Regions from separate parts of the Homo sapiens genome. Here region 1 is linked to region 2. The links come from fine-mapping of genetic effects on gene expression. A gene starts in region 2. The other region holds a variant in brackets. All regions are shown on one strand. Distances are between the middles of the regions.

Region 1 (5,372 bases), 310 kb before region 2:
AAACAAGCATCAAGCTGTCTAAGTTTAAGAGAGTGCCTGCACTTGACAAAAGAGTCTAAATTTAGGGAGGGTCCCCCTCCCAGAGGATTCCCTAGTCTGCCAGCCTCACAGATGGTCATACCCCAGGGCTGCTGCTTCAGGACAGACCTGAGGCCAAATTTCCTAGGGGCAGTGGGAGAGAGATGATGCAGTGTGATGGCCAAGCCCAGCACAGAGCTTCCCATGCACTCAGGTCTAGGGCTGTGGGCAGGGATTCCCAGATCAAGAACTTCCATTCAAGTTTTGATGTCAGAATCTGAATGCAATATAAAAAGAAAGCAGCTTCCCATGTCCCATGAAAAAGAGCACCACTGCAGGACAGTCTGTGGAAGATAAATCCACATGCAGGTGGGCTCACACACAGTCAGGGGTGCTTTGAACTCTCACCTGCTGTGTCTTCCCAGAGGCCCTTTGTTGACCCTACTCATCTGCCAGCAACACTGGAGGGTGCTGCTGAGACTCGCAGCCCCAGGAAGGGGACGTGCTAACTGGAGGAAAGACACCATTGTTATGCTGTGAATTTCAAATTGTTCTTCACCCTAAAGGCGATAGACTTTGTAAGTCTACTCAAAAGGTTGAGGTGGGAGGATGCTTGGGCCCAGAAGTTTGAGACCAGCCCAGGCAACATAGCAAGACCCCATCTCAAAAAAAAAAGAAAGAAGTAAGAACAACTGGTAAGAGAAAGGATTTTATCAGGGTTTCTAAAGCTTTAAAAACAAAACAAAACAATGTATAAAGACTCAAAGCTTTTCCAGCTGACCATGCATAGCAGGGCATAAAAGAAGGTATGCAAGGGAGCTCACACCACACAGAAAGAAGTGGAGCCTTCTGTCCCCCAAACTTCCCCTCCTCCCACTCCAGCATGTGGGCTTAGACCCAATCACAGAGGGGTGTGCTGGATGGGAACTGCCAACCAGCCACCCCAGCACAACAGTGGACTCAGACTGGCCAGGAGGGGGCTCCTGGAAGGTGAGCCTGAGGATGGCCTCACAGTGCCCTGCATACCCCTGTGTGATGAGAGAAGGAGCCACTGGAAGTCCACAGGCCCCGCAAGGACAGCCAATGCAGGAGGGTCTGGGGCACTGAAGAAGGACTAGTGTGGAGAAGGCAGGGAATAGATAATACCTGAGGAGGAGAATGAATGGGCACATGGATAGATGGCTGGCTGGGTAGCTGGCTGGCTGGCTGGCTGGATGAATGGATGAATGGATGACTGGATGGATGGATGGCTGGATGGATGGATGGCTGGCTGGCTGGATGGATGGATGGTTGGCTGGCTGGATGAATGAATGGGTGGGTGGGTGGATGGATGCATGGATGCATGGACGCATGGATGGATGGATGGGAGCCTGGCTGGATGGATGGATGAATAGATGGTTGGATGGATGGATGGATGGTTGGCTGGATGGATGGCTGGCTGGATGGATGGATAGATGGATGGATGGACAGATGGATGGATGGATGGATGGACAGATGGCTTTGGAGCAGAGAGTCAGAAATCTCAGTCCAAGGGGAAAGCTGGATCAGAAATGAAAAGTAGTATAAGGGCACTAAGGACAAAATGGCTGGGAGGGGCCTCCCAGATGACTTGCATTCAATGATTTGCTCTTTGCTGAGCCTTATTTTGATTGCAGCAAAAAGCCCTGTGGTAGATTCCCTGGGCAGGGAGAAAGAGGGGAGGAATGGAGCAGTTTCAAGGCTTCTAACAAGGGAAGCTTCTAGTCACTTGGATGTTACTCTCTCTTAGTATTAAGGATAAAATTAAAACCTACATAGAGCACAAATATACCTGTCTTTATATGAATCCTCTGCTATATAACTATGAGTTGAAAGTACCATAAGAAATGTCATCTTCATATCCAGAAATTAGTGCTATGTGCGAAGTACCCACATATAAAATAAAGCCCTGATTTAAAAGCTACTCTTGCTGTATCTTTTAAACCCTCACCTGTGATGATCTTTTGGGTATTTACCTATAAACAAATACTAAGCTCTATTTACATCCACACAGGAATTCCCCAAGGTAGTCATAATACTCTTCAAATCCCTAGTCAAATTTCATTTTAATGGAACGGTTCAGATAAAACCAACCACTCTGTGTTTGCCACATCCGCTCAGTAAGAATTCAACATTCTTGCCAGAAAGCAAAGAGAATGTTGTGATTTCACCCTGCCACTCCCTATATCTCAGCATTTCCAAAGACAAGCCCCACAGACCAGACCAGATTTGGTTTAGTTATGGAGTAGCACAGGAGGAATTTGCTCTAATCCGCTTCAAGATTGCCTCAGTTACTGAAAGTTATTTGTTGACGCAAAATCTAGATTAAGCAAAATGTGCTAGGA[G/A]GAGAATTGCTTTGTACTGCTGACATGAAACAACCAAGAGTTATCCAGAGATCCCCTTTTGTTTTAGGACTTCTACAGATTTGTCCTAAAAAAAATAAGTACTCTACCTCTTAATTACCACAAAAGAATATGCAAATGACACCTAACAACCCAGCTTAGATGAGTCAAGATGGACGGGCAGAAGAATGCAGTTTCTAAGGGCATGAACTCTGAAGATGGGCTACCTGGTTCACTCCTGGCTCAATCTCTGACTAGCTCTGTGATCTTGCACATCTCTGTACCTCTGTACAGTTTCTTTATCTCTACAATGGGAAGCTCCCAAAGTTGCTATGGGTATTGACATCAACAATGAGTTGATGTGTGTTACGTTCTTAGCATGGTACCTGGTTAGTGGTTTGCCATTGTCACAACTTCCACGGCTTTGAAAGATTCTCAATGGGAAGAGAAGTGAAAGACACCTGAACTCCCAGCTCAGGTGAATGGCAGTCTCCACTACACCCCGCCAGTCTGACTTCTGAAACCTGGCTGTCAGCTTTTCCTCTTGCTCCACTGCCAACACTTCGAACCCCTACATTCCTGAAGATGTAGATGCTAGAAACTGGACTGGATATCAACTGACCCCATAGAGCCCCATGGGAGTCAAATTTCTAAAATAAATAGTGCCAACAAAGTGAGAGTAAGTTTGCTCATATTCAGCCACCCAAGAAATGTCACATTTATTTATTTTAATCAAATCCAACTCTGAGCAATGGTTTCAAGATCCTGTCTCAGTACCTACTGGGGTTTTCTGACCTACCAGGGTCAAACAAAGAGCTGACATGATCTCTTGAAGTCTGAGTGCCTGGTACTTCCCAGCCTGTGTAAGGGGCAGAGGAATCCAATTGGTGCTGGAGCCAGTAGCCTCATTCCCTGGGGTTCAGTCCTTCTGGGAACTCTACACAACCATTTCTGCCCATGTCTTATTGCTAACCTGGGGTGTGGACAGAGAAGGGTGAAAATGCTGTCACTTGGTGGGTTCACCAATCTCTAACAGCCCCCCAGGCTTGGGATATCGTCTGCTCCCTCTCAGCTTCCACTTGACACCCCAAGATCCCTCATGTCTCTCTTCTCTGGGAGTTCACAATCTAAAAGACCTGTTGGAAAGAGAAACTTGGGATAAAATGAATAAAGTACAACAGAGTCTCACCCAACTGTATTCCTCTACCAGAGGACAGACCACAGATTACTGTCTTAACATATACCCTGACACACCAGCTGTGTGCCTTGGCTTGCTAATGTTTCTTGTAAATACTAATGTAGCAACATAATTTTGGTGAATCTAGGGTCCTGGTTATCTACTTAATCAGGCTTCAAAGTGCTTTATTTTCAGTGCACAGGGAAGAACCCTAACTGCTTACATTGTCTTGCTGACAGAAAAAGCTGATCTTATTTAAGAGTGGCAAGCATTACCTGGGCCCAGTTGGATACAGATATATCAGAAATGTATGTGTCTGTTTGTACACCTGAAAGCATCTCCCCAAAAGGGGGCTTTCAGCACAGGTGGCTTCCACTGCCCTCCTCCATCCCATCCTCATAGCAGACTGCCAAGAACCCTCTGGGTTACATGCACGTACATAGGCCCAGAATTGGTGGTGTGGAGGCAGGGACAGACAAGAGGACAGCAAAGAAAATAGACAAAAGGAAGACCCTGGACAAACTCATCCCCCCTTTATCAAATAATCTTAAACTATATTCACGTGTGTTATCTCTTTTGATCCTCACGACGACCCTGGGAAATAGAACTGACAATTTCCTTAGAGATGAAGAATCCACAACAGGCAAGAAGTAATTTACGTGCCCAAGATCATCCAAAGAGCATGTGAGGAAACTACACAGCAGTGTGATTGTCCCAATCCCTGGCTACAGTTGCTTCTTTTCATTAATGATGATGCTTCTCCTCCATAAAACTCAGCCCAGTCGCAAAGTCATTTTCATATCTATTGCATCATTTAATTCTCTCCCAAAAATCTAGAAGGAAAGCACTATTATCACTGCATGGGAGACAAAAGGTCAAACTGATGGTTGGCCCATAGTGACAGGAACATCTAATAAATAAAAAAGGAATTCTGGTCTCCAAATTCTCTGCTCCTTCCTCTACCTCCGAACTGTCTTTCCATGGGGCTCTATTCCATTGTCATTTGACTACCAAAAACATCATCCTCCAGAATCAGGATGACCGCACAGCATCAAATATGTGCCTACTGTGTCCCAGGCACTGTCCTCACATTGAGAATACAAAAGGCAATGAAAGAACCCCTTATGGGGGTCAAAGATCAGTGGGGGAGGCAGACTCGTGAACAGATAATTTGCTGTAAGCAACTAGTGCTGTAATCGAGGCATGCACGAGTACTCTGGAAATTCAAAGTCAGGGAGATTCACTCCACCTGCCCGGGAAGAGGGTGGAGGTGATGGGGCTCCAGGAGGCTTCAGTGGTGGTACTGACGCTTTCCACAATATTACCCAAACTTGGGAATCAGCTTACACACGACGCAAAAGCCCAGAGAACAAAAATAGTTTTACCTCCCGCAGTTTAGTGAGAGTCATGGAAATTACAAGTGCAAAAAAGCACAAAAGAGAGTGATCAGCTATACTGCTGACTTTTTCCTACTTTTGACAACTTAAATGAAATTGTCCTGAGTCATACTTACTACAACCTTTGACATTTCTTAGACTTTTAACAGGTACAAATCCTCAGCAGCCATGTTGTTTATCTAAATTCAGCCCAGAGTCTGTGTCATGGTTGCCATTATATCCTGTGCAAGGAACATGAAAGGGCCAAATTTAGTAGCAGATGATGAGTGTCAGGTCCAGGAGTTTCCGAGAAGCTTATGAAATCCTCTGTCTTGTTTACACTACATTAAAATCTCCCTTCCCCAAGCCCGTCCTTCTCCGAAGGCTGAGGTGCTTATCCTGGAGCCACTACTTCCTGCAGCTTGAAGATGAGTAAACCAT
Region 2 (5,372 bases):
ACTGCAGTAGGTATGTTTGCTTGCTGACCAATATTTGCAATCTGACTGCCAGTAGGTACAGCAGACACTGCTGCCGGAGCCTGGCCAACAGGCTGGACAGATGCCCCTGCAGGTTGTGCTGGGACTGCTGTGGGCTGCACTGGCAGCTGGATACCCTGTGGCTGAGCCACAGGAATCACTGTTGTTCCTGCTCCTACTCCTGCAGAACTGGGCTGTCCGGAGGACATTGCTGTTTGAAGAATTGGCTGCTGTTGTACATACTCTGAAGCAGGATTTTGAGTCACTGATTTGACATGGCCTGGGGCCATCTGTGTAGAAACCATTGGTTGCTGTTGTCCATACTGTAACTGTTGGGGTGGTGGTGCCCCTGGAAGGGGAGTTTGCACTGGAGGAGCCGCCTGAGAATATGGTAGCTGGGGTTGAGCCAAACTGGAAATGGAAGGCTGCTGACCTAAAGCTGAAGTTACACCAACCACATTTACAGGCGATGGCTGGATACCAGTTGCAGCACTCATAGTGGCTTGCAGAGGTACTGGCTGAAGACCTTGCTTTTGCTGATAGCTCAGTTCTTGAGACTGTAATTGTACTTGTGAGATCTGTGACTGAGAAATACTCTGTGGTATACTAACTGCTGGAATACTCTGTGGACCAGTGCTACCAAAATCCATCTGTTGGAGGGTCACACCTTGGAGAGCTGGTTGTTGCTGTTGTTGTTGTTGTTGCTGCTGCTGCTGCTGCACCACCACAGTAGGGGCTCCCATCTCTCCACTTCCCACACTCTCTGTATAGTGACTCAGTGTGCTGACACTACTGCTCACTGAACTCCCACTAGTGCTCTCCCTTTCAGAAGTCACTTCTATCGGATTTTGCTTTACAGTCTCCACCACTTTATTTATCAGCACACCTTCTGTAGCAGGTACAGCATTTTCTTTTTCATAGAACTCAGTGCAAGTCCATCTACCTTTTTTAAAGGGCTCAGAACTAGAATCTAACTTCACAACTCTGAACCTCGAAGTGTTAACTGTTGGTTGTTGCTGCTGACTTGAAACCGATCCCCCAGTCATCCCTGCAGCTGCATTAGGAACACTGCTAACAGCAGCAGAGGAAGAAATAGTACCATTGCCCATGCCACTCAAGATATTCACATTAACACCACTGGTAACTCCAGGCCCAACACTCACACCAGCAGCACTAGGAATATTGCTTGTACTTATATTAACATTACCAAGCATGCTGCTTGTCACATTAGGATTAAAACTACCCACAGCAGTAATGTTAACATTATTTACTGTACTAGTGCCAGTAACAGAATTTATACCTATTCCACCTGTAGTACTTGGAGCACGCATATTAGTCATTACAGATGCAGGTGAACCACTGGATGATACAGCAGAAGTTGGTGCAACTGGTGTGATACTGTCAGAGCTTCCAGTTGTAGAGAGTTTTCTAGATACTGGGCTTGAGGGTGGCCCACCAGTAATGGATGCACTGGCCACAGCAACATGAGATGGATGGTGGTGACCATGTTGGAGGTGGTGCCCATGATGAATCTGATGGTGGTGATGGAGGTGGTGTGGATGAGCATTCCCATTGATCACAACATTCTGTTGTGGAAGGTGAGGCAAATGAGGCTGAGGAAGGTGGGGCTGGTTGGGAGAGACTGCCCCAGGTGTCTCGGCTTCCTGGAAGTTATTTAGGGTCTCTTCTGAGGAGCTGCGTTCGGGCTCCCCTAAGTCAGTAGCCCTGGAAAGTGACACATCAAGGATCTCCGAAGAAGAGAGATCTTCCGTGTGAGATTCATCCAGATCATCATAGCTCTCAGTGTCCTCTGCTATACTGTTGTTAGAGCTGATACTAGCGGAGATCTGAGCAGGAGTAACGCTAGTTATCTGGAAGCCACTTTTCTTTTTCATTTGAGTTCCGCCTGGCGCAAGAGGCTGTGCCTGCAGCTGAGCCTGCGAAAGGAGGTTCAGGCTTTGTGGAGGCGGAGGCTGTGGTCCCGACGTAGAAGATGCTGCAGGGGGCGGCGGCTGAAGCAGCGACGGAGGCGGAAAATCCTCGGAAGATGTGGCATTACTACCGACGCCGGTACCTGCTGCATTGAGAGCAGAGGCGCTGCCACTACCGCTGCCCCTTCGAGGGAACATTGCCGGGTGCGCCATCTTCCTAGCGCTAATGTCTGCAGCGGCGGCGGCCGCGGCGGTGGACTCAGGCGGCTGGTGCATTGTGTTGGGTACCGGGGGCGCGGAGGAGACGAGTGCAATTTCCTTCTGCACCGTAATCTTTGTATTGGAGACGCCGGAGAGGAAAACGGGACCTGACGCTCCGCCTGGCGCGATTCCTCCTTCTCCTCCTCCTCAGCCAAAGGCGCCGGTCGCTCCTGCCTTCGAGAGCGAGCTTCGGAAAGGAGGATGAACGAGGGTGAACAGGGCGGCCGGGGACCCGAAGGGGGGATCCCTTCAGTCCTTCGCCATTCACTTTCCCCTCTAGCCTCACACCCCCCTTTATATTCTGCTTCACGTGGGGTGCGGGGCAGGAGGGAGGGGGAGAGCGCAGGAAGGGGAGGAAAAGCGAGAAATGCCCACCTTCTCCGGCCAACTCCGAAGCCGCCTCAGCCCCCTCCTCCCGCCGCGTCGGCGGCCGCTGCAAAGCCCTCCCGGCCGCTCTGCACGGAGGCAGCGCCAAGCAAATGTCGCCTTCCCCTCGCCACCCCCGGGGCCGCCGCCGCCGCCAGCGAGCCCCGAGCTCAGTGTCGCTCAAACCTCCCCTCCCGGCCCCGCTCGGCCCTCCCCCCGCGCCCCGCAGACCCTTTCAAACCCCCTGGGCTCGCGGCGGCTGCTCGGTGAGGAAACGCTGGCCGCGGCTGGGGCCGGGGCGACGCGGCTGCGAGCGGGGCGGCGGCGAGGCGCCCGGTACGGTGAGCCCAGCAACGAGGCGCGGGCGGGCGCGCAGAGACGCCGGGTCCTCGCGGAGCACGGCCGGGGCGCGGCGGCGGCGGTGGCAGCGGGAGCCCAGGGACCGCTCCATCACTGGCAGCCATGGAGCCCGAGCATTTTCCTCCCTCAGGGCAGGCGCCTCGACTCGGCACACGTCCTCGGGGAGGAAGGGGCCGGCACCCGAGCCTCTCCGGAGGGCGGCGGGACGTGCGCTAGGGCGGAGGGTGCGACCCTCTCTTATCCTCTTCCTCCGCAGCCGGCTCTTCCTCACCCCGCTGCTCCCGCGACCGGGCGGGAGAGGGCCGCAGGCGGCGGCGGCTCCTTTCTCCGCGGCGTTGGTGGCCAGACGGGCTGGTGCAGCGACTGCAGCCGACGCCGTTCAAAGGAACGAGGTGGGGTTGGTCGGTGTCGGCAAACGGGGCGGGGGAGTGAGTGGGTGCCGAGGGAGGGTGTCGGGCGGGGAGGGGGCTGTGGTGGTTGTTACTAGTGCTCTTCTTCGGCTCCCCCGGCTCCACCGTATCCCCCAGTCTCTCGCGGCATCGGGAGGGGAGGGACCAGCGCGGAGCGCAGGAGGAGGAGGGGCGACCGCCGGCGAGAGGAGGCGGTGGTGGCTGGGGGGAGGGGGCAGGCGGAGGAGGAGGAGGGAAGATGGCGTCTGCGCATGCGCCTCGGCGCCGCAGACATAAAGCCGGGTCTGGCGGGGCAGGAGGCGGCGGGTCTTCGGGCCTAGGCGAGCGCCAGGTCTCCCGACGGAAATTACCGAAGGCTGGCAGAGGCGCCGAAGCCGGGAGTGGTGGAGCCGGAGGGGATAGTGGGGGTGGGGAATTCCGGCCGAAGGAGCGAATCCGGGTCGGACTGCGTGATTCGGCCCGGTGGGGGCGGGCAGGGTGCGCGCCTGCCGCGCGCCCAGGTTAGGTGTGTCCGCTCTTTTCACACTCGCGGCCGGCGCGCGCGGGCACGCGGCAGAGGAGGGGGCGCGGCGCGGAAGGGCCGGCGGAGGCGGCGGGAGCGCCGGCGCTTGGTGTGCGCGCCTTGGGTGGTGTCCCCCGCCTGCGGAATGGGTAATGAGGCTTTTCTCCGCAGCAACAGCATCACGAGTTTCAGTTCCCAGGAGCCCGCCGCCGCGGCTGCTGCCGCTGCCACGACATGAGTCAGGCTTTCTTCCCTGGCGCGTGGCGGAAACCTCCTCCCCCTCGCCGCACCTGGGCTCGCCCCCGGCCCTTGCCTCCTCGGGGGATGCCCTAGGGCCGGGAGCTGTGGGGTCTATGGAAGGCCGGTGGCTCCCGGTGATAGGTGTTGTCTTTTGTGCAGTGCAGTTGCTGCCATGCGGTCCCCTCGCCCTTCCACGGGCAGGGGCGAGGCGGCCGGGCAGATGTTGCAGCTGTTTCCAGTTAACTGCCTGAGCTCCTCTGGGCTAGGCTCTTCTCTAACGAGGAGTGGTTGCAATCCATCCTTAACTGGAGGACAGAAGCAGGCCGGCCCTGTAATCGACTGACCTCAACAGGTGTCTCCAAGCAGCGACGCCTTTTTCGTTCATCGTCCTGGCTATATCCCCCATTGGTTTGACTCAGGAGGCAAGGTGGTCCGGACATGTGAGCAACACAAATGATAAGAATGCCTTTTAGGGCTAGAAAAGAAAAAGCCATCCGAAATTCCAGTTTTAAAATACACACACACACACACGTTACATTTCATGGGTCCAAATGTAGTTCTACAGAAGCAATGTTAGGTTTGATTGGGGGCAATTTACTGGCGGTTACTTTCTTGGTATTTCATGTCAAAACCTAGTTCTAAGCGTTTCTTACCAATAATCGAGAATGTAAGTCTTTCCCAGGAATTTAAAAATGATAAAGCAAGCCGAAAAACTGTAGGGAGGAATTTTCATTTTGTTAAATTTAGGTTGTTAGGGGAATCAACGCTTATGGTTAGACCTCTGATTCAGGAAGTCTCAAGGATTTACATTCCTATTTCAGAAGATTGTTAAAGCAAAAACGATTGTCATTTGCAGTTTTGATACACCTCTAGTTGTCAGTTCAACTTTTTACCTTTAGTTTTCTCTGAACTCTTCCCCTTGTTCCAAGGGGAAGCTTTCAAAAAGTGAATTATGTCACCATTTGCATGTTATTGAATAGAAGTGCACTCTTAACATCCCATTTATCCAGTGTCAAAGCTATGATACATTGTTGCTTTATGTGGGGTCTCCCACACTGAAAAGAAAAACCCGGACTTCATTTATTTATTTATTTATTTATTTATTTATTTATTACTTTATATTGCTAATGTAAACCTCTGCTAGAAGTAAATAGGCTCTCGCAAATATTCAAAGTGATACAGTAATAAACATCAAATATGTTTGAGAAGACTACTTGTTCTATGATATTAATATGTGATTGGTTGTTTTTATAGAACTATGGCTATTTGTGTTTTCACAAAAAT

What was found. PIP is the estimated chance that this variant, and not a neighbour inherited with it, causes the effect.
Region 1: its variant is the best candidate, but not a certain one, in a credible set for the expression of TSC22D1 in whole blood (INTERVAL, PIP 0.67).

What each region holds. Positions count from the first base shown.
Region 1 is chr13:44,265,986-44,271,357 of GRCh38, forward strand. No RefSeq gene overlaps it. Among named protein-coding and RNA genes, the nearest start is that of MIR8079, 72 kb to the left of the region's middle. The variant G/A (reference allele first, on the strand shown) is at 2,382.
Region 2 is chr13:44,573,850-44,579,221 of GRCh38, forward strand. It overlaps TSC22D1 (TSC22 domain family member 1), which reads right to left and starts at 2,481. Exons shown (of 3, transcript NM_183422.4): 1 at 1-2,481. The coding sequence starts at 2,225. TSC22D1-AS1 (TSC22D1 antisense RNA 1) reads left to right here and starts at 2,047. Exons shown (of 3, transcript NR_038381.1): 1 at 2,047-2,421; 2 at 3,193-3,328; 3 at 4,253-5,372. RefSeq lists an enhancer at 1,954-2,193 and silencers at 2,514-3,223, 3,234-3,473, 3,744-3,943, 4,124-4,173.